Homo sapiens: one gene and its partners. The protein of the gene in region 1 purifies or fractionates together with the protein of each later gene. This does not show direct contact. Each region holds a gene or a part of one and is shown in the gene's direction. Other genes may lie near its edges. The genes, in order: UBXN6, TUBGCP6, ASPSCR1, NPLOC4, DNAAF5, VCF1 and QRICH1.

Region 1 (3,500 bases):
CCTGAGGTCAGAAGTTCCAAGACCAGCCTGGTCAACATAGTGAAACCCCCTATCTACTAAATATACAAAAATTAGCCAGGCGTGGTGACAGGCGCCTGTAATCCCAGCTACTCAGGAGACTGAGGCAGGAGAATCGCTTGAACCTGGGAGGTGGAGGTTGCAGTGAGCCCAGATCACGCCATTGAGCTCCAGCGTGGACACTGGGTGACAAGAGCGAAACTTCATCTTAAAAACAAAACAAAACAAAATAGTAATAGTTCCATAGACTCTCCAGACTCACACCCACTCCAGCAGTGTGTGCAAAAGCACCCGTGTCCCCATCCTCTCACCATACTGTAAATCACCAAACTTTGATCTTTACGCCTGTTGGTAGGTGAAAATAACATCTCAGGATAGAGTTAATTTGCACTTTCCTTATTTTGGATTGGCCATGTTTCATATGAGAATGCGTCCTTTCTACATTATTTAGTAGATAGTTTGTCTTTTTATTAGTGATTTGTAGGCACTCTTTTTTTTTTTTTTTTTTTTTTTTTTTTGAGACAGAGTCTCGCTCTGTCGCCCAGGCTGGAGTGCAGTGGCGCCATCTCTGCTCACTGCAAGCTCCGCCTACGAGGTTCACACCATTCTCCTGCCTCAGCCTCCCGAGTAGCTGGGACCACAGGCGAACCGCCACCACGCCCAGCTGATTCTTTGTATTTTTAGTAGAGACGGGGTTTCACCATGTTAGCCAGGATGGTCTCGATCTCCTGACCTCGTGATCCGCCCGCCTCGGCCTCCCAAAGTGCTGGGATTACAGGCGGGAGCCACCGTGCCCGGCAGCACTCTTTACATATTAGGCAATTTAGGCTTTTGCCTATGATATGAGTTGCACATGTTTCCCTCTAGTTGCTTCTATGTTGGCTCTGCTTATGGTCACTTTGCTGTGTAGGATTTTTTGATCTCTGTATAATTAAATGTGTCAGTTTTAGTTCATGGCTTTTGGGTTTGGGGTCATTCTTAGAAATGCCTTCCCCATTTCCATGCTGAGAGAATTCTTTTGTGGCCTCTCCAGTGCTTTTTTTTTTTTTTTTTTTGAGACAGAGTCTTGCTGTCACCAGGCTGGAGTGCAGTGGTGCAATCTCAGCTCACTGCAACCTCTGCTTCCCGGGTTCAAGCAATTCACCTGCCTCAGCCTCCCAAGTAGCTGGGACTACAGGTGCACGCCACCACACCCGGGCTAACTTTTGTATTTTAGAGATGAGGTTTCACCATGTTGGCCGGGATGGTCTCGCTCTCCTAATCTCGTGATCCGACCGCCTCGGCCTCCCAAAGTGCTGGGATTCCAGGCATGAGCCACCGTGCCCGGCCTCCAGAGCTTTTCTTCTGGCTTCTCCTTGACTGCTTGCTTGTTTCCATGGTTGAAGCTTTGATCCAGCTGGAGCATGTTATTATGTAACATGGTGGGATGGAGCTGATGTAATTTTTTTTTTAGATCTTGGCTCAGCTTTCTTCTCAGCCCCACCTGTCGAGAGCACCTGTCTTTTGCTTACAGCTGTGAAATCCCACCTTTCTCACAAAGTACATTCCTGTATGGATTTGGACCCCTTCCTGGCTGCTGTTCCTTCGTCCCTTGTCTGTGCATGTACCCAGCTCCTGACCTAAGCCTGGCAGCCAGTCGCCCAAAACGCCCGAGGCCCGCTTTTGGAGCTGACACGCTTCCCTTGGCTGGTGTGCTGTCCCGGGCGCTCTGATCCCAAGGAAGCTGTTGTCTTGGGGACATGCCCATCTGGCAGCTCTGCCTCTCTGCATCCACGTGCTCTGTCCCGCTCCCCACATCATCTCAGCAACTAAACCGGCAGACTGGGCCGGGTCCCAATTTTCAGTTGGCATGAGCCCCGGCTCAGTGTGTAGGTCATTGGTCCGTGTGACGCAGGGGGCTGCTGAGGGACCCTGCTGTGCAGTTGAGGGTGGGGGGTGGTGGGTGGAGCTCTGGGCTGCCTGGGCAGGTGGCCCGAATCCTGACACATGGCCCTGGGCTGCCCTTCTGTTCACCCGCCCTCGTCTGGGCAGCCCAGGGAGGTGCGGGTGGCAGCCCTGCTTCCCAGGCCATGGGTGGCTCTCTGGGTGTGGCCGTGTGTGATGGCTGTGCCGAGCGTGGATTTGTGCCCCAATCTTTTCCAGGTCTTAGGGTACGTACTGTTCTCAGCCTCTCCATGCTGGGACGCTGTTCGCAGTCAGCAGGGCTGGTTCTGGGAAACCCCCAGAGTTCCAGCTATGACTTCTCCCCTCCCCCGGTAACATAGGTGGATAGGTGGGACCTCGGGGAGGGGCAGGGGCTGGGGGTATCCGTCTTCCAGCTATTGAGTTTCAGACATTGAGGGTTGCAGACTCATTTGTGTCCTCTCTGCCACCTGCCATCCCTGTGACCCTGGACGATGGGCCTCTCGGTCTCTTTGTAAACATGAGGCCCGGGAGTGGTTCCAGAACGTCCATCATGGGGCTGCGAGAGCAGGAGGGATGGGGCGTCCATGGTGGCGGGAGGTTCTGTAAGTGGCGGTGGCCTTGATGGATCTCAGCACTGAGGTCGAGTTCTAAAGCCAGAGTGTGAGGCACAGTTCTGTCGCGTCACACTGGCTTCCAAGTCCCATGGATCTAGCCTTGAGAAGGCGGAAGGGGAGACTTGAGTTCTGCTGGGTCTTGGCTGCGTCGCCTCTGCCCTGGGGCGTGGGCAGGGCTGCGGTCTTGGAGGGTCTCTCTTTTCCTTTCTGTGATGAGCGCACAGCTGGGGCCGCTCCAAGCCGCTGTTCTGCCTTCCTTTTCCTGCCCCTGTTACCTGGGCAGCGGAGGGCCGTGCGGCCCGGGCTCTCAGTGAGTGGCTTTCCCTGCTTCCCTCCTCCCAGCACTTCTCCACCGACCCAGTGGCCGCCTCCATCATGAAGATCTACACGTTCAACAAAGACCAGGACCGGGTGAAGCTGGGTGTGGACACCATTGCCAAGTGAGCGTGTGGCCCCTTTGCCCTGCCTGGCCCCTCCAGCTCATCCCAGCACCCCTCCCACTGGGGCTGTCACCCCCTCTGGCCCCCTCATTACCTGCTGAGGTGGGTTGGGAAGGAGCATAGGCCGAGAGTGAGGCAGCTCCACCCAGAGGCCTCAGGCAAAGGGCTGGGCCTCCTTGGGCCTCAGTTTACCCGTGTGCAAAATGAAGGTGTTGAAGGAATCAGGGGTTTCCCACCCTGGCTTCCTTGGGGAACATGTGGAGGAGGCAGGGTCCCACCCCACTCCCCGGGTCTCAGGATCGGGGGCAGGCCTGGAGGTCCACGCTGCCCGCCAACGCCGAGGGAGCACCCCGCAGGAGCCCCCTGCTGGCACTGCGGCCCTTCAGCTCTGGCTCTCCACTCTTCCGGCACTGTGGCTTCCCCACCGCTGTGGTTAATTGTGCCCTTCCAGGGCTGGTGGGACGGTGAGGGGTTCCGTGGGGCTCCTGCTGGCACCAGGGGTGGGCTCCATGGGGTGTCCGAG
Region 2 (3,500 bases), on another chromosome or scaffold:
CACCAGTGGCCTGAGGAGGTACCTGCAGTATTACCGGGCCTGCGTCCTTTCCACTCCGCCCACCCTGAGCCTCCTCACCATTGGTTTTCTCTTCAAGAAACTTGGCCGGCAGCTCAGGTGAGCCTCAGCATGGCGGCTGAGCAGGGGACTTTGCGGGAGCGGTGTGGGGCTTGCTGGGTGGTGGAGGGTTTGCCCTGCTCCCTGGCAAGGAGGGCCTGTGAGAACAGCCCTCAGCAGGCGACCGGATGGCCCTTGGCCGGCCGAGTTCACCAGGTGCCCGGTGCTGAGCGGGTGTGTCTGCCGTGGGCCCACCACAGCTGGCCCCATCCAGGCCCTCCAGGTCCGGTGGCTCCTGCCTAATTGGCACACAGGGTCCCTGGAGATGTGGCGTCCGGTACACACAAGCTGGTTAGTGAGCAACCAGGCTCGGGGGCTATTGGCAGGTGCCATCAGAGAAGGAAGAGTGAGGAGCTGGGCATTGGGAGCAGTGGGAGAGGCGACCTTCCAGGCTGAGGAGCAGAGTGTGGCAGCGCTGAGGAGACCCAAGGGCTGAGACACTGTGGGGCAGGGGAGCTGGGCTGTGAAGGGTGCGAGTTGTGGCAGATGCTTGGTACCACTGTGTGGATGGGAGGGGCTCTCAGGTGCAGCCCCCAGAAGTGGGAGGATCAGGGTGATTCGTGTGTTGGCCAGATCCTGGGAGGGAGGGCCTGCTGGGTGTGGGTACTTCAGTGGGGTGTGTGTGGACAGCGCAGGGGCACAGGGCTGCACACGAGTCCTGCAGGGAGCCCGTTTCTGGGTGGTTGGGGTGCCTGTGGTTTTTAAAGCCTGCATCTAAAGTTAGTTGCCCCAGGGAGCATAAAGATACGTGGAGACTTTGCTCACGATCTGATCCAGGCCTGGGAACCCTGAGCCCGGTCACCTGGTCTCATCCTGCCTCTGGGTCTAGGTACCTGGCCGAGCTCTGTGGCGTTGGCGCTGTGCTCCCGGGCACCTGTGGAGGAGGCCCCAGGGCCGCGTTTCCCACCGTGAGTTGTGCGTCCCTGCCGAGTGTGTCAGCCTGGTGGGCTCCAGGAAACGGGGGTGGCTGAGCGTGTCCCTGGAGGGCTGCTGCCGGCAGGGCTGCGCCTCACTCCCAGCGCTGGGTGCGCTGAGCTGCCCCCCACCCCCTTTGCGGTCTGCAGGGCGTGAAGCTGCTGTCCTACCTCTACCAGGAGGCTCTGCACAACTGCAGCAACGAGCACTACCCTGTACTGCTGTCCCTGCTGAAGACCAGCTGCGAGCCCTACACCCGGTGGGCAGTGGGCTGGGCAGGCGCGGCGGGCGCGCACTCCCACCAGGCAGACACTTGAGAGCGGTCCCTTGTCAGACACCTGCTGAATGTGGGGGTCACACAGGAAGGGGAGGGCAGGATAGGTGGACTGGGCAGGAGCCCCCAACCCCCCACCCTGCCCCCACTCCACACCCCCCACCCTGCCCCCACTCCATCCCGCCCCTCATGGATGGCCACACCCCACTCCACCTCTCACAGCTACGCCCCCACTTGCCCCTCACTGACAGCCACGCCCCTGTCCCACCCCTCACTGACAGCCACGCCCCACCCACCTCTCCGTTGACCACATCTACCCCTGCTTTTCCCCCACTGCAGGTTCATCCACGACTGGGTGTACAGCGGGGTGTTCAGAGACGCTTATGGCGAGTTCATGATTCAGGTGAACCACGAGTACCTCAGCTTCCGAGGTAGGTGGCAGCTGATTGCGGGGCAGGGGTCCGTGCCTGTGGGCCTGGGTTCAGGGCCATGGCCATGCCGGCCACCGTGGTGTTCACCCTACCTTAGATAAGTTGTACTGGACACATGGCTACGTGCTCATCTCCAAAGAGGTGGAGGACTGTGTTCCCGTGTTTCTGAAGCACATTGCCCACGACATATACGTCTGCGGAAAGACCATTAACCTGCTGAAGCTCTGCTGCCCCCGGGTGAGGAGGGGCTCATGTGTGGGGAAGAGAGGGGCCGGTCTTCCCTGGGGCTGAGTATGAGGCTGGGGCTGAGTGCTGGTGGCTGTGCTTGCATCCCCTTTGGCAGCATTACCTCTGTTGGTCCGACGTCCCTGTCCCCCGGATCTCGGTGATTTTCTCCCTTGAGGAGTTGAAGGAGATTGAGAAGGACTGTGCCGTCTACGTTGGGCGCATGGAGAGGGTGGCCCGCCACAGCTCTGTCAGCAAGGAGGAGAAGGTGCGTGGCACCACAGGTCTCGGGGGCTTTCTTCGCCCCTGCCTCTGCTTCCTGGGGTCTCAGGTTGGTGGGGCGGACATGAGGGCTGTGCAAGATGGGGGCCTCCCTTCTGGCATTTTCTGTCCTGGCGGTGGCCTGGGTGGGTGCCAAGGGGGAGTTGAGATGAAGGGTGGGTGTCAACGGGGAGTTGAGATGAAGGGTGGGTGCCAAGGGGGAGCTGAGATGAATGTCCGGAGCCAGATGCCAGGCAGGGGCTCTGACTTCTCCTCCTGGGTCTGGGTGGCTCAGCCTGAAGCCCAGGCTTTGCTGGCGTGGGAAACTCCGTTGGGGCCTCCCCGGGCCCGCCAGCTGTGGACAGACAGTCCTGGCTGCACTCCAGATGGCCTTCGCCCTTTGCAAGCCCCCTTCCTGCTGGGAAGGGACAGTGTGTCAGGGACGGGCCACGCCTCTCCTGTGTCTTCTGGGAGGGGCTCGGTGGTACAATCAGTGCCATTCCCAGGAACACCCTTTCTGGCCTGGTGCCTGGTGGGCAGCAGGGATACTTGGGCAGGGGCAGGCCTAAGAGGCTGAGCGGGGAAGCCCCCTCTTGAGGCCTCTTGGTTTCCTTCCAGGGTGGGCACACACAGCCTTGGGGTCCTCAGCCCCAGATGTCTCTGTGAGAGCCGGTCAGCTCCCGTCCATGGCCTGGAACCAGCCTTGCCACTGCTGAGAGCCTGGGGGTGGGGGAGGGTGGGCGGGGGGGCGGTGTCCTGCCATCACCTGGTCCCTCCTCGAACCCTTGGACCATGTGTCTCCCCTGCCGGCCCTGAGTCCACAGGTGTCCTGGGCATCCTAGGTGAGGGGTCAGAGGATTAGGTTGCTTTTTTTTTCTTTGAGACAGGGTCTCACTGTGTCAGCCAGGAGGCTGGAGTGCAGCGGCTCGAACATGGCTCACTGCAGCCTCCACCTCCCAGGCTCAAGGGATCCTCCTGCCTAAGCTCCCCTGACCCCCGCCAAATAGTTGATACTACAGGCACCTGCCACTACACCTGGCTAATTTTTGTATTTTTAGTAGGGATGGGTTTTTGCTATGTTGTCCAGGCTGGTCTTGAACTCTTAAGCTCATGTGATCTACCCACCTCGGCCTCCCAAAGTGCCAGGATTACAGGCGTGAGCCACTGCGCCCGGCCAGGATGCTTTGATTACCAGTTGTCTTTCTCAGGAATTACGTATGGAAATTGCAAAACAAGAATTAATCGCTCATGCCCGGGAAGCAGCATCCAGGGTCCTG
Region 3 (4,265 bases), on another chromosome or scaffold:
GGTTCAACTTCACGTCCTCACTCATGGCCACGCTGATGTCCTGCACCTCCTGCTGACTTGTCACCTCCCTTCATCATTGCCCCAAACGTTTAACCAAGGATCCAGACTGTGGGACAGTCTAAGGAAAATAGGAACAGACTCTTCAAAAACGCCACTAAAGAATTAAAACCCACCAGGTGATGTGTGGCTCAGTAAGGTTCTGAGGTTGCACAGAGCATGGGACTGGCTGGCTGGATGGGAGGGCTATGGCTAGCCTGGGGCTTTCCCCAGGTTTCTCCAATGTACATAGATGTCCGTGTTTGTCAGCATACAGGTGTGTGTGGGTGACATGGATATGTCATCGACAGGAAGGCACAACAGCACCCATGCAGAGATGTCCTTAGACTCAGCAATGACTGCCGGGTGCGGTGGCTCACGTGTGTAATCCCAGCCCTGTGGGAGGATTGACTGATAACTGCACCAGTTCCCCCTTCCACAGGCTACTGGGCAGCTGAGCCCTAGCCAGGAGTCCGCAGAGACAGGCAGGCACATGGAGAGAGGAGTGCCAAGGCCCGGCTGAGCCATGGAGGTGGGGGGCGGGGCGGAACACGTGCGAGTGCTGTCCATGAGTGGCCCAGGTGCTGGGAGCTAAGCACATTCGACGGCTGCGAGTCAGGAGGGCAGCTCCTTCTGGAAGCCTGGAGCTGGTGAGGCCAGGTGCTTTCCCTGCTGCGGTGGCTGGCGATGGGAGTGTTTCCTGAGGCTGCCACCAAGCCCCTCCTCAGCATGGGTTGGTGCGGGAAGTCCTTGAGTGCCTGTGGGTCGGCAGGAGCTCCGGTGAGACTCAAGTTCGCTCACCCCACGGTTCTGAAACCGGTCTCCCGCCTTTCCTACCCTCAGGTTTAGGGACCGTCGCGGCAGCCCTAGGGCTGCCAGATTCTGCACTCCCATTTTAGGATGAAAGAAATCAGGTCTAGACTGAGGGCCACGAGTCCCAACACCCAGGGAGGATCCGTACAGGGGCGGGGGGACTGCCCCAAACCATAAGGTCAGGAGGTGGACGCTGACCACAGGGACAGGTGGGCAGGGAAGAGGCTCAGCTGCTGGAGTGGAGGAAGCCGGGAGGGTCGGGGGAGAGCAGGGCACCGAGCTGGGGACGTGTCAGGGACGAAGCGAGGGTGGGCGAGCGCGGACCGCTGGGACCCCGGGGCTCAGTGCCGCTCACCGGGGGTGACCGCGCGCCCAGCCCCGGCCCAGCCTGGCCCCGGCGAGCCCATCCAAGCCGCGCTTCCCGGAGGCAGAGGACGACCGCGCTTTCCGGGTCTGGCGCGGGCTTTGGCGGCCCAAGGGCGGGGCCGGGGCGCCGTGGGTGGGGAAAGGGCGGGGCCTGGCAGGACCCGGAAGTGCGCTGCGGCCCCGCCCCCTGGCCGCGTGGCTGCGCGTCCTGGCTGTTGCCGATAAAGTTGTTTGACGCCGGCCCGGCGGCGGGTCACGTGAGCGGAAAATGGCGGCCCCGGCAGGCGGCGGAGGCTCCGCGGTGTCGGTGCTGGCCCCGAACGGCCGGCGCCACACGGTGAAGGTGACGCCGAGCACCGTGCTGCTTCAGGTGCGGCCGCCCGCCCGGGGCGGACGGGTAGGCGGGCGGGGGGCGCTGCGCCGAGGCCCCGCCCATTGCGGTCGGCGTCCCGGTGTTCGGGGGCGGGGCCTCGGCGGCCAATGAGCGGCCTCCTGAGCGGCGGCCCCGCCCCCTGCTCGCCGTCACCTGCGCTTCCGCTGGGGTCCCGGGGGTCCCGGGGGTCCCGAGTGGGGGCGGGGCGGTGGCGAGCCTTCCCAGGGGTGAGGTAGAACGGCGCCGCGTGTCACCCGCATCGAGTACTCGGCGCCCGGCCGAGCCCAGCTCGCGAGGGCGCCGGGAAGAGGGAGGAGTGGAGCCCTAGACCCGCGTTCCCATTCCGGGGCGTCCCCCGGAGCGGGAGCCCGGGTTGCGCGGTGGCAGATGTCCCGGCCGTGGGGCCTGGAAGCGATTTTTGCCGAGTCACTCACTGCACTTTTACTTGGGCACCTTGTGACCGCGAATCAATTAAATGTAAAAGTATTGGCTGGGCGCGGTGGCTCACGCCTGTAAATCCCAGCACTGTGGGATGCCGAGGCGGGTGGATCACGAGGTCAAGAGATCAAGACCATCCTGGCTAAAACGGTGAAACCCCGTCTGTACTAAAAAAATACAAAAAAATTTAGCCGGGCGTGGTGGCGGGCGCCTGTAGTCCCAGCTACTCGGGAGGCTGAGGCAGGAGAATGGCGTGAACCTGGGAGGCAGAGCTTGCAGTGAGCCGAGATCGCGCTACTGCACTCCAGCCTGGGAGACAGAGCGAGACTCCATATCAAAAAAAAAAAAAAAAAGTATTTATTGAGCCTCTGCTGCGTGGGGGACCGTGAGGATCCGAAGGTGCACACGACTCGGAGTTTGCGGGAGCAGCCCACGGCGTGGGGTCCCCAGGCCTGGGCAGGTGGAGGGCGCAGCCAGGAGGCTGTTGGTGCCAGGCGTGCAGAGTGCGGAAGTGGGGCGCTCCCGCAGAGGCTGCGCGGGACCCCTTGGTGCAAGGCCACGGCTTTGGCTTTTTATGGAGAAGAGGGGCGGAGGCGGTGCAGGCAGTGGCAGCAGGTGCACAGAACCGTGCCAGAGCCAGGGGGTAGCTTGTGCTAGGCAAGTTTAAGGCAGGTTGCAGAACTACAGGGTTTGAAGGAGAGCCCAGGGTGTGTGCCAGGAAGATGCCCGTGTTGCTGTACTGCAGGGGAACTCTGAGTGGAGCTTTCCTACAAAACTGAGGGGATGGTGAAGAAGGGAGGGAGAGTGGACAGGATTTGCAGGTGAGAGCCTGCATTTGTTGCGGGGACCGTCCATAGTGTGGTCTTGTGCTTGGCTTTGCCTGGGCAGAGCCACCTGGCTCACCAGGAAGCTGAATGCCCTTGGCTGACCTGGCCCACTGCGCCCGCCAGCCCTGCACACTCAGCAGTTCACCATCCTTTCATCTCACCCCCAGGTTCTGGAGGACACGTGCCGGCGGCAGGACTTCAACCCCTGTGAATATGATCTGAAGTGAGTTTGCTCCAGCTCAGCAGCAGGGTCTGAGTATATCTGTGCCCCTGCCCCCTGAACATACTGGCTCTCACTTGGAAAAGCCCCCAGGTGGTTTTAAACAGTCATATATTCCCTCCCAACTCTGGAGACCCAAGGCCTTGGCAGGGCCACACTCTCTCCAAATGCCCTAAGGGAGAATCCCTCCTGCCTCTTCCAGCTTCTCATGGCTCCAAGCGTTCTGTGGCTTGTGGCCGCATTGCTCTCTGCCTCCGATTTCTTGTGGCCTTTTCCTGTTTTCTCTGTGTCTCAGGAAGACCCTTGTCATTGGATTTAGGGTCCACTTGGATAATCTAGAACGATTTATCATTACATCTTCAAAGACCAGGATCCCTAGTAAGATGTTCAGAGGTCCTGGGGGTGAGGACATTGACCCATCTTTTTTGGGGGGGCCACCATTCAACCCCCTGTAGGTTTTATTGCATTGAGTTGCATAAGTTCCCAGTGGGGCTCTGAGGGGAAAGAGCTGGCCGTGGAGAAATAGGATGCCTTGAAAACTGCAGGTGGATCCCTGCAGTCTCACAGCCCCTGGAATTACACGTACGCTTCTGTGTGGGGATATTGTTCCCAAGAGAGGGCTTCTGCCAGACTCTCAAGGAGTCTGAGACAGCAGAAGGGTCAGAGCCCTCATATGGATAGGATGTGCGTGTCTATCCCACACGCGAAGCTTTTCACTTTAAAGTCCTGTTTTCTGGTGTTTTTTTTGTTTTGTTTTGTTTTTGAGACAGGGTTTCACTCTTGTCGCCCAGGCTGGAGTGCAGTGGCACGGTCTTGGCTCACTGCAACCTCCACCTCCTAGGTTCAAGTGATTCTCCTGCCTCAGCCTCCCGAGTAGCTGAGATTAGAGGTGCTCACCAACACACCCAGCTAATTTTTATATTTTTAGTAGAGATGGGGTTTCACCACATTGGCCAGGACGGTCTAGAACTCCTGACCTTGTGATCCGCCTGCCTTGGCCTCCCAAAGTACTGGGATTACAGAGATGAGTCACCATGCCTGCCCTTGAAGACCTGTTTTTACAGTACTGTTGTCCTAACACTGGGGGCAGAGGGCAGGAGCTTGCCCTCCTGGCATTGCCCACCCTGCCTTACGAGGCTCTCCTGGGAGGAGTTTCTTAGGGGTGATACCTGCCAAGTCATTCCAGTCTTCT
Region 4 (3,500 bases), on another chromosome or scaffold:
TGCTTCTGGCTATGTGCAGTGACGCCTGTAGTCCCGACACTTTGGGAGGCCAGGGCCAGAGGATCATTTGAGCCTAGGAATTGTTCAGCCTGGGCAACTCTTTTTTTGTATACCCTGTCTCTACAAAAAATTTAAAAAATTAGCTGGGTGTGGTGGTTCACGCCTGTAGTCCCAGCTACTCAGGAAGCTGAGGCAAGAGAATCACTTGAGGTCGAGGCTGCAGTGAGCCATGATTGCACCACCATACTCCAACCTGGGCAACAGCATGAGACCCCATCTCTAAAACAGTTAAATTGGCCAGACTCAGTGGCTCACGCCTGTAAAGCTAACACTTTGGGAGGCCAAGGCGGGTGGATCATGAGGTCAGGAGTTTGAGACCAGCCTGGCCAATATGCTGAAACCCCGTCTCCACTAAAAATACAAAAATAAGCTGGGCGTGGTGGCGTGCACCTGTAGTCCTAGCTACTTGGGAGGCAGAGGCAGAAGAGTTGCTTGAACCCAGAGGTGGAGGTTGTAGTGAGCAGAGACTGTGCCACTGTGCCACTGCACTCCAGCCTGGGCGACAGAGTGAGACTCCGTCTCAAAACAAACAAACAAAAAACAATTAATTAAAAAAAGAAAAACTTGGTTCTGACTCAGAGTGGTAAGGGAGACCCTAGTACCTGCTTTCACTGTGGGCCTTGACTTGCCAAGGCCATGCTGCTGGCCTCCCCCTGTGCGTAGCAGAGGCTCAGCGCCTGGAGTGACCGGCACGTGTGAGACTGCACTCGCTTACTCTGTGTCTTGGCAGCCATTCGATGAGGACTATCTAAACCATCTCGAGCCTCCCGTGAAGCACATGTCCTTCCACGCCTACATCCGGAAGCTGACTGGAGGGGCTGACAAGTAAGCAACTTGCTGTAACCTGGTTGTGCGTAAATTCCTTTTTGTGTAGCTGGCAGTTGTTGCTTATAGCCAGTGAACGTGTGAATGAGAGAAGTAAAGATGAGAAGGGGTCACACGCCTTTGAAAGTTACCGTGGTTCTATATTTATTTATTTATTTTTTATGTACTCATATATGTTTTTAAGAGATGGGGTCTCACTATGTTGCCCAGGCTGGTCTAGAACTCCTTGGCTCAAGTGATCCTCCTGCCTTGGTTTCCCCAAAGTGCTGGATTACAGGTGTGAGCCACCTCGCCTGGCCAACCTGGTTCTAGAAGGGAGCTAGCAAGGCAGAGCGACTGTGCAGGCGCCTGGCTGCGTGGCCACAGTGCAGTATCAGACAGAGGCTGTCCCCACACACACCACCCCAGCAAGTTAGCATCTGTGATGGTGGCCTGTTGATTCTGTGGTCTGAGTTCATTCTCTGCTTTTCAGAAAAACAACTACCCTGTGAGAATCTCAGCTTCCCCACCTCAGTGCCTGGTAACCCTTTCCCCAGAGCCTGGCCTCTGAGTCAGCTTGGTTTTCAGCCACAGCAGGGGCTGCAGCCACTAATCCTCATGGTACCACAGTAGTTGCCCACAGGCTCAGCCAGGTGGGCAGAGGTGGTAACAGTGGCCAGAAAGGGGTGAACTGAGCATTTTGATTTCTTTTAAGCCATGGCAAGCCCTTGCCTGTATGACCTTCTCCTGTTGGCTCTCTGTACACCCTACCAGAAAGTAGCAGGCTTCAGCTATTATTTTATAATTCCTGTCAGTGCAACGAGGAGATGGTGGCTGAACTGAAGTCAGCAACATTTTGTGAAGGATGTCATATTCGCCTGATTGTAGCTTTTCTCTGACAACCTGCTGACATCCTAAAATGACTTTTTAAAAATGTTAGACCAGAAGAAAAAACCTGCTAGAAACCCACTGTTGCTTGTCAGTGGGGAAAGCTGTGGAACTCTCTGGACTAAGGAGTGGGTGCAGATTGATTGTAGTGAAAGAGACTTGGTCAGCCTTTCTCAGTCTAGGTCAAGGAACACAGTCTCTAGTGGGGGCGTGTTTGTGGCTGCTGTTAGCATGCAGATTCAGTGACGAGTCTTTGCTTCCTAGATGCTATGATACCAAAAATGGCTCACCACCAAAAATGATCAGTATGTGAGGTAATGCATATGTTAATTAGCTCAATTTAGCCGTTCCACAGTGTGGACATGTTTCAGAATATCATTTCGTACACTGTAAATATATCGTTTTTATTTGAAAAACAAAACCTCACGTCTACCTTAAAGATACAGATTTCTTTTTTTTTTTTTTTTGTCAGTTATATTTCAATAAAGCTGGAGAAAAAGAAAAAGTTCAGAGTAGGGTCCAGGATTTTCTCATTGACAGTCTTCAACAGTAGTTTTTATTTTAGCCTAAAGCAGAGTAAAGATGCCTTAATTATATATCCTAATCAGATTTTTCCCATGAATAAGAATTTTTTACAAATATCTAAGTACTGGGCTAATGTCAAAGTTTCTGACAATTTAATGAAACCTGTAGGAGCCTCATGCCCGCTCAGTGGCACAGGTGAGATCAGTAGATATTCTACAGTATTCTTGAAAGCTTTCTCGGATGTTAGTGATAGATGGTAAAAAACACCACAGTTTGGTAGGAAAGTAGTTGTGTGTTCCTGTATGGTTGAAGTATGTGGGACAGAAGCTGGGATTCGGAATGTGCTGGAACTGTAGGTAGAGCTTCCATTAGAATCATCCTTAGCCCATCTTCCCTGCTGCTGCCACGTGCTTAGCTCCTGAGACACTGTTCAGGAGGTATAAGATACTTAGCATGTCATTTCCAGCCTCTTGCTCAACTTTTCACCAATGTGATGTTTAAGTTGCTTCTCTTCTATGTAGGGGGAAGTTTGTTGCCCTGGAGAACATCAGCTGCAAGATTAAGTCAGGGTGCGAGGGGCACCTCCCGTGGCCGAATGGCATCTGTACTAAGTGCCAGCCGAGCGCCATCACGCTGAACAGACAGGTGAGATGTTCCCTGTCTGTCTAGATTTGTTTTCATGGCTGAGAAACGGATATTTCCAGAAGAGCCCCTTGGAGTGGAATGCTATTAGCACTATGCGTGGTGGATTTTCAGTACTTTTTGATGGACTGAATGATCCTTTTGTGGAAGTGGTACACTGAATATATCATTTTTAAGGCTTCTTGCTCTTGGAGATATGGAGTGCGCGCCCTCAGTTCTCTGTTTTGCTGGCTCATATGGAGGCAGAATGTTCCTGATGATTATTTAAAATCCTCAGTGGTTGTGAGGAAACTGGCTCTGAAGGTTGGTAAAGGGGCACCCCTTGGACCAGCTCTGAGCACCTGTCCAGGCTGGCTTAAGGAGAGAATGTGGCTCAGGAAGGAGGGAGCGTTCCGGCCTTTCTGGATGTTCTGCTGTCCTTGTCCCGCCTCTGAGTAGCCTGCCTCGCCTTCCTCCTGCCGCTGTGCCCTTAGAGAAAACGGCTCCTTAGAGAGAATTCCGTGGCCTCCTCGACTTTTTTGGAAACCTCCTATTCTCTATTCCTTTTTTCTTCTTGAAAACTACTTTATTTTGGCCGGGCA
Region 5 (3,500 bases), on another chromosome or scaffold:
GAAGTCAGGTAATGTGATCCCTCCAGTTTTTTGTTTGTTTTTGTCTTGTTTTGTTTTTTGCTCAGGATGGCTTTGGCTATTCAACGTCTTTCGAGGTTCCATATAAATTTAGGATTATTTTTTCTATTTCTGTGAAGAATGTCATTGGTATTTTGATAGGGATTGCGTTGAGTCTGTAAATTGCTTTGGGTAGTATGGACATTTTGGGTAGTATGGACAATATTGATTCTTCCAGTCCATGGAGTATGTTACCATTTTTTGTGTGTGTCCTCTTCAGTTTTCTCATGTCAGTGGTTTATAGTTTTCTTTCTTTTTTTTGAGACAGTCTCGCTCTGTCATCCAGGGTGGAGTGCAGTGGTGCGATCTCTGCTTACTGCAAGCTCCGCCTCCCAGGTTCACGCCATTCTCCTTCCTCAGCCTCCCGAGTAGCTGGGACTACAGGTGCCTGCCACCGCACCTGGCTAATTTTTTGTGTTTTTAGTAGAGACAGTTTCACCATGTTAGCCAGGATGGTCTCAATCTCCTGACTTCGTGATCCGACTGCCTCAGCCTCCCAAAGTGCTGGGATTACAGGTGTGAGCCACTGCGCCTGGCCTTATAGTTTTCATTGTAGAGATCTTTCACTTCTTTGGTTAAGTTAATTCCTAGGTATCTTATTTTGTTTGTAGCTATTGTAAATGGAATTACTTTCTTGATTTCTTTTTCAGATTTGTTAACTGTTGGCATGTAGAAATGCTACTGGGGCTTTTTTGGTGATTTTGTATCCTGCAACTTTACTGAATTTGTTTATCTGTTCTAATAGGTTTTTTGTGGAATCTTTAGGTTTTTCCAAATGTAAGATTATATCATCTGCAAACAAGAATAATTATCTTCCTTTTCAATTTGGATTCCCTTTATTTTTCTTGTCTAATTGTTCTAGCTAGAGCTTCCAGTACTGTGTTAACTAACAGTGGTGAAAGCGAGCATCCTTGTCTTGCTCCAGATTTAGAAGAAAGGCTTTCAATTTTTCCCCATTCAGTGTGGTACTAGCTGTGAGTCTTGTATATGGCTTTTATTGTACTGAGGTGTGTTCCTTCTATACCCAGTTTTTTGAAGATTTTTATCATGTAGGGATGTTGAATTTTATCAATACTTTTCAGCATCACTTGAAATAATCACGTAGTTCTTGTCCTTCATTCTGCCGATATGATGTGTCACATTGATGGATTTGTGTATGTTGAGCCATCCTTGCATTCCTGGAATAAATCTCACTTGGTCATGACAAATGATCTTTCTCATGTGCTGTTGAAACAGTGGAAACTTTGCGTCAGTGTTCATCAGGGATATTGTCCTGTAGTTTTCCTTTTCGATTGCATCTGGCTGGTTCTGGTATCAGGGTAGTACTGGCCTCATAAATTAAGTTTGGAGGTATTCCTTCCTCTTCTAGTTCTTGGAATAGTTTGAGTAGGAGTGACATTAGTTCTTTAAACGTTTGATAACATTTGGCAGTGAAATATTGCGACCCGGGCTTTTCTTTGCTCAGTGGCTTTTCATTGCGGCTTCAATATCATTACTTGTTACTGGTCTGTTCAAGGTTTGGATTTATGATTTAATCTGTGTAGGTCATATGTGTCTAGGAATTTATCCATTTCTTCTAGGTTTTCCAATTTATTGGCATATAGTTGCTCACAGTATAGTTGCTCACAGTGTAGCTGCTCACGGTGTTGCTCACAGTGTCGTTGCTCATATTGTAGTTGCTCATATTGTTGCTCATAGTGTTGTTCTTCATGGTATAGCTGCTCACAGTGTCGCTGCTCACGATGTCATTGCTCACGGTGTAGTTCATGGTGTAGCTGCTCACGGTGTAGCTGCTCACAGTGTCGTTGCTCATATTGTAGTTGCTCATACTGTTGCTCATGGTGTTCTTCATGGTGTAGCTGCTCACAGTGTCGCCACTCACGATGTCATTGCTCACGGTGTAGTTCATGGTGTAGCTGCTCATGGTGTAGCTGCTCACGGTGTAGCTGCTCACGGTGTCATTGCTTATATTGTAGTTGCTCATACCGTTGCTCGTGGTGTTGTTCTTCATGGTGTAGCTGCTCACAGTGTCGCCGCTCACGATGTCATTGCTCACGGTGTAGTTCATGGTGTAGCTGCTCACGGTGTAGCTGCTCATGGTGTCGTTGCTCATATTGTAGTTGCTCATATTGCTCATGGTGTTGTTCTTCATGGTGTAGCTGCTTACAACGTCGCTGCTCACGGTGTAGTTGTTCATGGTGTAGCTGCTCCCGGTGTAGCTGCTCATGGTGTCGTTGCTCATATTGTAGTTGCTGATATTGTTGCTCACGGTTTTCTTCATGGTGTAGCTGCTCACAGTGTCGCTGCTCACGATGTCATTGCTCACAGTGTAGTTGCTCACAGTCTCTAATGATGCTTTGAATTTCTGTAGTATCAGTTGTTTGTAATGTCCTCTTCGATCTCTGATTTTATTTACTTGGGTCTTCTCTTTTTCTTAGTCTGGTTAAAGGTGTGTTGATTTTGCTTGTCCAAAAATCTAACTGTTCATTTTGTTGGTCTTTTGTATTTTTTTTAATTTCAATTTCATTTATTTCTGCTCTTATTTCTTGTCTTCTACTAATTTTGGGTTTGGTTTGCTCTTGCTTTCCTAGTTCTTTACGATGCAGTGTTAGGTTGCTGTTTGAAGTTATCTGCTCTTTGAATGTAGGTGCTAATTGCTATACACTTGCCTCTTAGTGCTGCTTTTGCTGTTTTTGCATATTGTGTTTCCATTTTCATTTAAGAATTTTTAAAATTTCCTTCTTAATTTCTTCATTGACCCACCGGTCATTCAGGAGCATATTATTTAATTTCCATGTATTTGTGTAGTTTCCAAAGTTCTTGTTATTAATTTCTAGTTTCATGTTTTAAGGCTTGTTTCGTGGCCTAACATATGGTCTGTCCTTGAAAATGATCTGTGTGCTGAGGAGAAGAATGTGTATTCTGTAGCTGTTGGATGCAATGTTCTATAAATACCTATGAGGTCCATTAGATCTATAGTACAGATTAAGTCTGATGTTTCTTTGTTGATTTTCTCTCTGGATGATTTGTCCAGTACTGGAAGTGGGGCATTGAAGCCTCTAGCTGTTACTGTGTTGGAGTCTGTCTCTCTCTTTAGCTCTAGTAATATTTGGTTTATATATCTGGATACTCCAGTGTTGGGTGCATATATATTTAAAGTTGTTATATCCTCTTGCTGAGTTGACCCCTTTATCATTATATGATGACCTTTGTCTCTTAGTATAGTTTTCGTCTTGAAATCTGTTTTGTCTTAAGTGTAGCTATTCCTGCTCTTTCTTGCTTTCCATTTGTATGGAATATCTTTTTTCGCATCCCTTTATTTTCAGCCTACGTGTGCCTTTTTAGTGACGTGTATTTCTTGTAGGCAACAGATTGCTGGGTCCTGTTTTTCTTTACCCATTCAGCCGCTCTGTCTTTTGAATGGAGAGTTTAGTCTGGTTACG
Region 6 (3,500 bases), on another chromosome or scaffold:
ATATATATATATTATATATATATATATTTTTTTCCTATTTGCTTTTTTCTTTTCTTTTTAAAAAATGATTATCAGAAAGGTAATTGAGCTTTGTTTAATGTAATAGTTGGGAATCTCAGGGATGAAAGAAAACAAGATTAGAGGCTACCATGAATATCTAATGATAAAACCCTGTAATAGTAATTGAGTTTCCATTCTTTTGAATTGTAAGACTATTCATTAAAAGAGTATGCAAAGATTACTTCTATGGTGTTGGCCATCAGTATTTCCTTACTTGTGTCTGTATGTAAGTCCTGCTATATGATGTTCATTTCAGTCAAGGGTATGGTAGGTCTAACTCTCTGTATTAACGTTTTTTTCCCGTATCTGCCAGTTTTGAAGCCTGAGAACAGCAATAGAAATTGCCATCTTTTTCTTGCTTTTGTCTCTTGGTTAAAAAAAAAGAAAGAAATTGTCATCCTTTTTTAAAAAAATTAACATTTCTGATCTCTTAAGTAAGGCAGATATTGTAGATTTTTAAATTTTATTTATTTATTTATTTAGTTTTTGGTACAAAATGACCTTTACTCTCTTTCTAAAATCCGTGCATTGGTCTCACAGAAGAAAACAACGTCTTGTTACTCAACCTCCTGGGTTCTCTAGCTGAGCTTGTCCTTACTTGTCCAAAGAAATTCAGTTGTTGAGCCACTCCGTAATCATTATCTGAAGGAAGGACTAGATTGTCTTCCTTATCGTTTAAGGTCATTACTGGTAGTTTCTGTCTGAACTCACTGGTAGATCACCTAATGGGGTGTTACAACCATTAGTTTCAGCCTTGCTTACTGAACATTGACCAGAATAGCCTGCTGTGCCGTCCTGTGCTGTCCTGTCCTGTCCTATCCTATGCTGTCCTGTCCTGTCCTGTGCTGTGCTGTGCTGTGCTGTGCTGTGCTGTCCTGTCCTGTGCTGTGCTGTGCTGTGCTGTCCTGTCCTGTCCTGTCCTGTCCTGTCCTGTCCTGTCCTGTCCTGTGCTGTGCTGTCCTGTCCTGTGCTGTCCTGTCCTGTCCTGTCCTGTGCTGTGCTGTGCTGTGCTGCGCTGTGCTTCCTGGCAGTGGTATTAACAAGTAACAAGGACAAGTGAATGATGAGAGAGCCAGAGAAGCAAAAGGCAGAGGGAATATCTTTTAAAATGGAAAGTTAAGCCCCAAATAATGAAGTTTTCACTACTGGAATAAATGATTATGTTTGTAGCAGCAAAAAATCAAGTTTAGGGACATTTGGCTGGTTTTTGATGATTGTGTATAAAAGGGAAAATAAAACAATTCATTTTTAATTATATTAACAATTTAGACAAAATATTTTATTAATAACATTACTAATGAAAATGTTTTCTTTTAATTCTGAGGTAGGGCCATGAGGTCAGTTTCCTTGAAACTTAAGTTATGTAAGAGAAACCATTTCCTATGTTTTCCCTGAATGAATAAGCTTTGTCACCCAGACTGGAGTGCAGTGGTGTGATCTCAGCTCACTGCAACCTCTACCTCCCAGGCTCAAGCAATACTCCTACATCAGCCTCCCAAGTAGCTGGAACTACAGGCACATGCTACCATGCTGGGTTAATTTTTTAAGGTTTTTTTTTTTTTTTTTTTTTTGGAGAGACGACGTCTCACTATATGGCCCAGGCTGGTCGTGAACTCTTGGGCTCAAGCGATCCTCCCACCTCAGCCTCCCCAAAATGCTGGGATTACAGACTTGAGCCACCATGCCTGGCTAGAATTCCCTTCCTTCCTTCCCTCTGTTCTCCCCTCCCCTTCTCTCCCCTACCTTCTCATCCCCTCCCCTCCACTTTCTTCTCTTCCCCTCCTTCCTCTCTTCCTTTCTCCCTCCCTCCCTTCTTCCCTCCCTCCTTTCCTTCCTCCCTTTCTTTCTTTTCTTTCTGGCAGGGGCTCCCTCTGTTGCCCAAGCTGAGTGCAGTGGAATGATCATGGTTCACTGTAGCCTCAACCTCCTGGGCTCAAATGATCCTTCCTCTTCAGCCTCCTGAGGTGCTGGGACTACAGGGATGTGCCACCAAACCTGGCTAATTTTTTTAATTTTTTGTAGAGACAGGGTCTTGCTGTGTTGCCCAGGCTGGTCTTGAACTCCTGGCCTCTGACCCTCCTCCACTGGGCCTGGCCAAATTCTTTTTCTTATTTTCTTTTTTTTGTTAACCTGGCTGTTTAAGAATTCTTTTTCTTATAACTTGAACTTCATGAGGAATTTTTTTTTTAATTCTAAGAGAGATTTAAAAGTTACTTACAATTCATTTCTAAAAGTTAACCTTTTTGCTTAAGTACAATAATAATGGCGAGTACTAGGAAATATGTGAGGTGTTTTATTTATGTTAAACCATTAAATTGTGCCACAAGTAAATCACAACTATCTGTACAGTGGAGATAATAGTATCTGCCTCTTCTTTCCTAGATACTATAAAGCTAAATAATGTGAACTGATTTGCCGGATTAGTTATATAGAGAGAAACTTCATGTGTGCATAAATTAATGTGTGCATAAATGGCTTCTTTCCCCCATTTTATTTTTTTATTGTTTATTGTTTTTTGAGAGGGAGTTTCACTCTTGTTGCCCAGACTGGAGTGCAATGGCGCAATCTCGGCTTGCCATAACCTCTGCCTCCTGGATTCAAGCGATTATCCTGCCTCAGCCTCCCGAGTAGCTGGGATTACAGGCATGTGCCACCACACCCTGCTAATTTTGTATTTTTAGTAAAGGCAAGGTTTCTCCATGTTGGTCAGGCTGGTCTTGAATTCCTGACCTCAGGTGATCTACCTGCCTTGGCCTCCCAAAGTGCTGGGATTCCAGGCGTGAGCTACCGTGCCCAGCCTGTTTTAGTAGGTATTATTATCTCCACTTCTCAGATGGAAAACTTGGCACACAGAAAAATAGTCACTTGTCCAAAGAACACAGCTAGTAAGAGGCAGAGGAGGAACGGAGCCCCAGGGTGTGGTTGTTGGGCTGCACGCTCCTGACCATGGTGTGTGCTCTCCCAGAAGATAGAACAGAGGTTCTGCGAGACTTTGCTAAATATATCCAGGAGCAGCTAGAGCCTAGTCTTCTCTTTTTTTTTCTTTTTTTTTTTTTTTGAGACAGAGTTTCGCTCTGTCACCTAGGCTGGAGTGCAGTGGCATGATCTCAGCTCACTGCAACCTCCACCTCCCAGGTTCAAGTGATTCTCCTGCCTCAGCCTCCTGAGTAGCTGGGATTACAGGCACCCGCCAGCTCGCCCAGCAAATTTTTGTATTTTTAGTAGAAATGGGTTTCACGATGTTGGCCAGGCTGGTCTCAAACTCCTGACCTTAGGTGATCCATCCGCCTTGGCCTTCCAAAGTGCTGGGATTATAGGCGTGAGCCACCGCGCCCAGCCCTAGTTTTGTTTTGAGTCAGGAACAGAGAAGAACAATTTTCCTTCTCTTTTTATCTAGAAGCTGTTTTTTCCAAGTACATGGCATGATATGATCTTAGCTA
Region 7 (3,500 bases), on another chromosome or scaffold:
GTAGTCCCAGCTATTTGGGAGGCTGAGGCAGGAGGATCCCTTGAGCTCAGGAGTGCGAGGCTGCATTCAGCTATGATTGTGCCATCACACTTCAATCTGGTCTACAAAGCAAGACCTTGCCTCTTAAAAAATAAATACATAAAATAAATAATAAAATAGGAAAACAAACATTATTCATCCTACTACCTAAACTTCTATTACATTATTGGTAATTACCTTGACTTTTTTTTTTTTTTTTTTTTTTTGTAATTCACAAAGCATTTATGTAACACTTTTCTTTTTGTTAAACCTGATTTTCATGAAGGTAATTTATTCAAAACAGAGTCTTGTGCCAGCATAGAGGTTTTCTTCTCATTGTTCCCTGCACTAACTACTTATTTGAAGGAGTCTAGCTAGAATAATATACCAATGTAGTTAGGTTTTCAGGACATCTGTGGTGAAGCATAACAGAAATTTGCAGACTGGCAGTTCAAGGGAGCAGAGGTGGATTTCTTAGTGTTTGAAGGCTCTTGAGGAGAAACCCACAGTATAATAGAATAGGGCTTACTGGTTGGGACTTATTCTGTTGCCTAGTCTTGAGAAATGTCTGCCTCCTAGTTTTTTCCTCTCTTGGTGGTCCTAACCTAAGTACTATGTGAATTGCTTTACATGCTTTCATTCTTTGCTCTCCCAGTCCTGGAAGGCAGATACCATCATCTCCATTTACAGGCAAGGAAACTGAGTCTCAGAAATTAAAAGACTTGCACATGTTGTTTAACTTATACAATATCTAATGGAAGGCTGACCCCAGAGCCTATTCATGATTTTTGCTAACACAAAATAATGCCTTTCTTGGGTGAAATAGCATTCACAACATCTGCCTTATTTACCCAACTCTCAAGAATGTCATGAGAATCAGTCACATGAGCTTAGGCATACTATGGAAGTGTCACATGCTGGTGCCTTGGTTTGTTGAGGTGTGAATGGGTAGGGAAGGATAGTAGTACTGGTAGAAAAATATATTTATTTCCCCTGAAATCCTTGTTCAGGAGACTACCAATAACTTCTATTAATTGTTTTTCTTTTAGTATCTTTTTGAAAATGGAAGGGTAGATGACATTTTCTCCGATCTTTATTATGTTCGGTTCACGGAGTGGCTACATGAAGTTCTGAAGGATGTTCAGCCCCGGGTCACTCCACTTGGTAAGAGTCTCCCTTGTCCTTGGATATCTTTCCTACCTGGATTTAAGAAAGATCAATAGCTTCTGTGGTTGGCTATGAAAAGCATGTGAGTGAGGGGGGATATAAATCCCAGACTGCAGCAGCATTGGCCACTGTGCTACTTGCCCTGATAGGGAAGAGGCACTGCTCACCAGAGAAGCCTGCTGGTTCCAGTGTGGGAAGGACACAGGAACAAGCAGAACTAGTGGGGTAGTTACTATCTTTTTTTTCCTATTAAAATGTATTGATTAAAATTAGAATCATAACAATTAAGGATTATGGACAGTTTTATCTGTAGAGCATAATTTTTGCTTTACTCACAGGCAGCCTTCTGGACAGCATGTTCTATTGGAACAAAAGCATAGGTTATTCAGTGTTTTTCTTTGTTTGTTCTTAAAAAAACATGGTCTTGGTATGTTGCTGAGATGGGCCTCAAACTCCTGAACTCAAGCGATCCTCCTACCTCAGCCTCCTGAGTAGCTGGAGCTATAGGCATGCGCTACTGTGCTCAGCTATTTTTGTTTTGTTTTGTTTTGTTTGAAACGGAGTCTCACTCTATAGCCCAGGGTGGAGTGCAGTGGCACGATCTTGGCTCACTGCAGCCTCCGCCTCCCAGGTCCCAATTCAGGCAATTCTCCTACCTCAGCCTCCTGAGCAGCTGGGATTACAGGCATGTGCCATCATGCCCTGCTAATTTTTGTATTTTTAGTAGAGACAGGCTTTTGCCACATTGGCCAGGCTGGTCTCAAACTCCTGACTTTGTGATCTGCCCACCTCGGCCTCCCAAAGTGCTGGGATTACAGGCGTGAGCCACCACCGTGCCTGGCCTATTTTTGTTTTTAATAGACTTTTTTTTTTTTTTTTTTTTTTTTTTTGAGACAGAGTTTTGCTCTTGTTGCCCAGGCTGGAGTGCAATGGTGTGATCTTGGCTCACTGCAGCATCCACCTCCCAGATTCAAGTGATTCTCCTATCCCAGCCTCCCAAGTAGCTGGGATTACAGGAGCATGCCACCACGCCTGGCTAATTTTTGTATTTTTACTAGAGACAGGGTTTCATCATATTGGTCATGGTGGTCTCGAACTCCTGACCTCAGGTGATCCGCCCACCTCGGCCTCCCAAATGCTGGGATTACAGGCATGAGCCACCACGGCCAGCCAATAGACTTTATGTTTTAGAGTACTTTTAGGTTTCCAGAAAAATTTAGCAGTAAGTACAGAGAATTTCCATATAACTCCTTAAGTATATACCCTCACACACAGTTTCTCCTATCAATAACATGTTGCGTTAGTATGGTACATTTGTTATAATTGATAAACCAATATTGATACATTATTGTTAACTATAGTTCATAGTGCTATGAACTATATTATTGTGTTGTACGTTCTGGTTTACATTCTGTATCTGTTGTACATTCTGAGTTTTGATGAATGTATGATGACATGTGTCACCATCATGGTGTCATATAGAATGTTTACTGCCCTAAAAAATACCTCTTCTGGGCCAGGCATGGTGGCTCACACCTGTAATCCCAGCACTTTGGGAGGCAGAGATGGGCTGATCACTGAATATTGGGAGTTCAAGACCAGCCTGGCTAACATGGTGAAACCCCATCTCTACTAAAAATACAAAAATTAGCCAGGTGTGTTGGCAGGTACCTGTAATCCCAGCTACACGGGAGGCTGAGGTAGGAGAATCGCTTGAACCAGGGAGTCGGAGGTTGTGGTGAGCCAAGATTGCGCCACTGCATTCCAGCCTGGTGACAGAGCGCGACTCCGTCTCAAAAAAAAAAACAAACCTTTTCACCTGTTTATCCCTCCCTCCCCCAGATACCCTGAAAACCACTGATGTTTTTACTATCTTCACAGTTTTGCCTTTTCCAGAATGTCATATAGTTGGAATAATTCGGCATGTGGCCTTTTCAGATTTGTTCCTTTCATTTAGCAATATGCCTTTAAGATTCCTGTGTGTCTTTGGCTGGGTGCAGTGGTTCATGCCTATAATTCCAGCACTTTGGGAGGCCGAGGCATGTGGATCACAAGGTCGGGAGATCGAGACCATCCTGGCTAACACGGTGAAACCCCGTCTCTACTAAAAAATACAAAAAAATTAGCCGGTTGTGGTGGTGGGTGCCTGCAGTCCCAGCTACTCGGGAGGCTGAGGCAGGAGAATGGCATGAACCTGGGAGGCAGAGCTTGCAGTGAGCTGAGATCGTGCCACTGCACTCCAGCCTGGGCGACAAGAGCAAGAGTCTGCCCCGTGCCACCCCCGCCCCCCCGCCCAAAAAAAAAAAAAAACACAG

What was found.
Region 2: the proteins of UBXN6 (region 1) and TUBGCP6 purify together in Homo sapiens (affinity purification with mass spectrometry; one large-scale study listed by BioGRID and IntAct). This does not show direct contact.
Region 3: the proteins of UBXN6 (region 1) and ASPSCR1 purify together in Homo sapiens (affinity purification with mass spectrometry; 6 studies listed by BioGRID and IntAct, with this or other methods). This does not show direct contact.
Region 4: the proteins of UBXN6 (region 1) and NPLOC4 purify together in Homo sapiens (affinity purification with western blotting; 3 studies listed by BioGRID and IntAct, with this or other methods). This does not show direct contact.
Region 5: the proteins of UBXN6 (region 1) and DNAAF5 purify together in Homo sapiens (affinity purification with mass spectrometry; one large-scale study listed by BioGRID and IntAct). This does not show direct contact.
Region 6: the proteins of UBXN6 (region 1) and VCF1 purify together in Homo sapiens (affinity purification with mass spectrometry; 3 studies listed by BioGRID and IntAct, with this or other methods). This does not show direct contact.
Region 7: the proteins of UBXN6 (region 1) and QRICH1 purify together in Homo sapiens (affinity purification with mass spectrometry; 2 studies listed by BioGRID and IntAct, with this or other methods). This does not show direct contact.

The regions. Positions count from the first base shown.
Region 1 is NC_000019.10:4,447,795-4,451,294, reverse strand, and holds part of UBXN6 (UBX domain-containing protein 6), read left to right. Parts: intron 1-464; exon of another isoform or gene 465-2,879; coding exon 2,880-2,977; exon of another isoform or gene 2,978-3,500. UniProt on the Homo sapiens protein: May negatively regulate the ATPase activity of VCP, an ATP-driven segregase that associates with different cofactors to control a wide variety of cellular processes.
Region 2 is NC_000022.11:50,224,524-50,228,023, reverse strand, and holds part of TUBGCP6 (gamma-tubulin complex component 6), read left to right. Parts: coding exon 1-117; intron 118-946; coding exon 947-1,025; intron 1,026-1,181; coding exon 1,182-1,291; intron 1,292-1,645; coding exon 1,646-1,737; intron 1,738-1,834; coding exon 1,835-1,974; intron 1,975-2,080; coding exon 2,081-2,230; intron 2,231-3,431; coding exon 3,432-3,500. UniProt on the Homo sapiens protein: Component of the gamma-tubulin ring complex (gTuRC) which mediates microtubule nucleation.
Region 3 is NC_000017.11:81,976,164-81,980,428, forward strand, and holds the start of ASPSCR1 (tether containing UBX domain for GLUT4), read left to right. Parts: upstream 1-1,465; 5' UTR 1,466-1,483; coding exon 1,484-1,585; intron 1,586-3,020; coding exon 3,021-3,076; intron 3,077-4,265. UniProt on the Homo sapiens protein: Tethering protein that sequesters GLUT4-containing vesicles in the cytoplasm in the absence of insulin. Modulates the amount of GLUT4 that is available at the cell surface. Enhances VCP methylation catalyzed by VCPKMT.
Region 4 is NC_000017.11:81,606,113-81,609,612, reverse strand, and holds part of NPLOC4 (nuclear protein localization protein 4 homolog), read left to right. Parts: intron 1-790; coding exon 791-885; intron 886-2,798; coding exon 2,799-2,922; intron 2,923-3,500. UniProt on the Homo sapiens protein: The ternary complex containing UFD1, VCP and NPLOC4 binds ubiquitinated proteins and is necessary for the export of misfolded proteins from the ER to the cytoplasm, where they are degraded by the proteasome.
Region 5 is NC_000007.14:733,199-736,698, forward strand, and holds part of DNAAF5 (dynein axonemal assembly factor 5), read left to right. Parts: intron 1-3,500. UniProt on the Homo sapiens protein: Cytoplasmic protein involved in the delivery of the dynein machinery to the motile cilium.
Region 6 is NC_000017.11:73,222,395-73,225,894, reverse strand, and holds part of VCF1 (protein VCF1), read left to right. Parts: intron 1-3,500.
Region 7 is NC_000003.12:49,042,072-49,045,571, reverse strand, and holds part of QRICH1 (transcriptional regulator QRICH1), read left to right. Parts: intron 1-1,067; coding exon 1,068-1,182; intron 1,183-3,500. UniProt on the Homo sapiens protein: Transcriptional regulator that acts as a mediator of the integrated stress response (ISR) through transcriptional control of protein homeostasis under conditions of ER stress.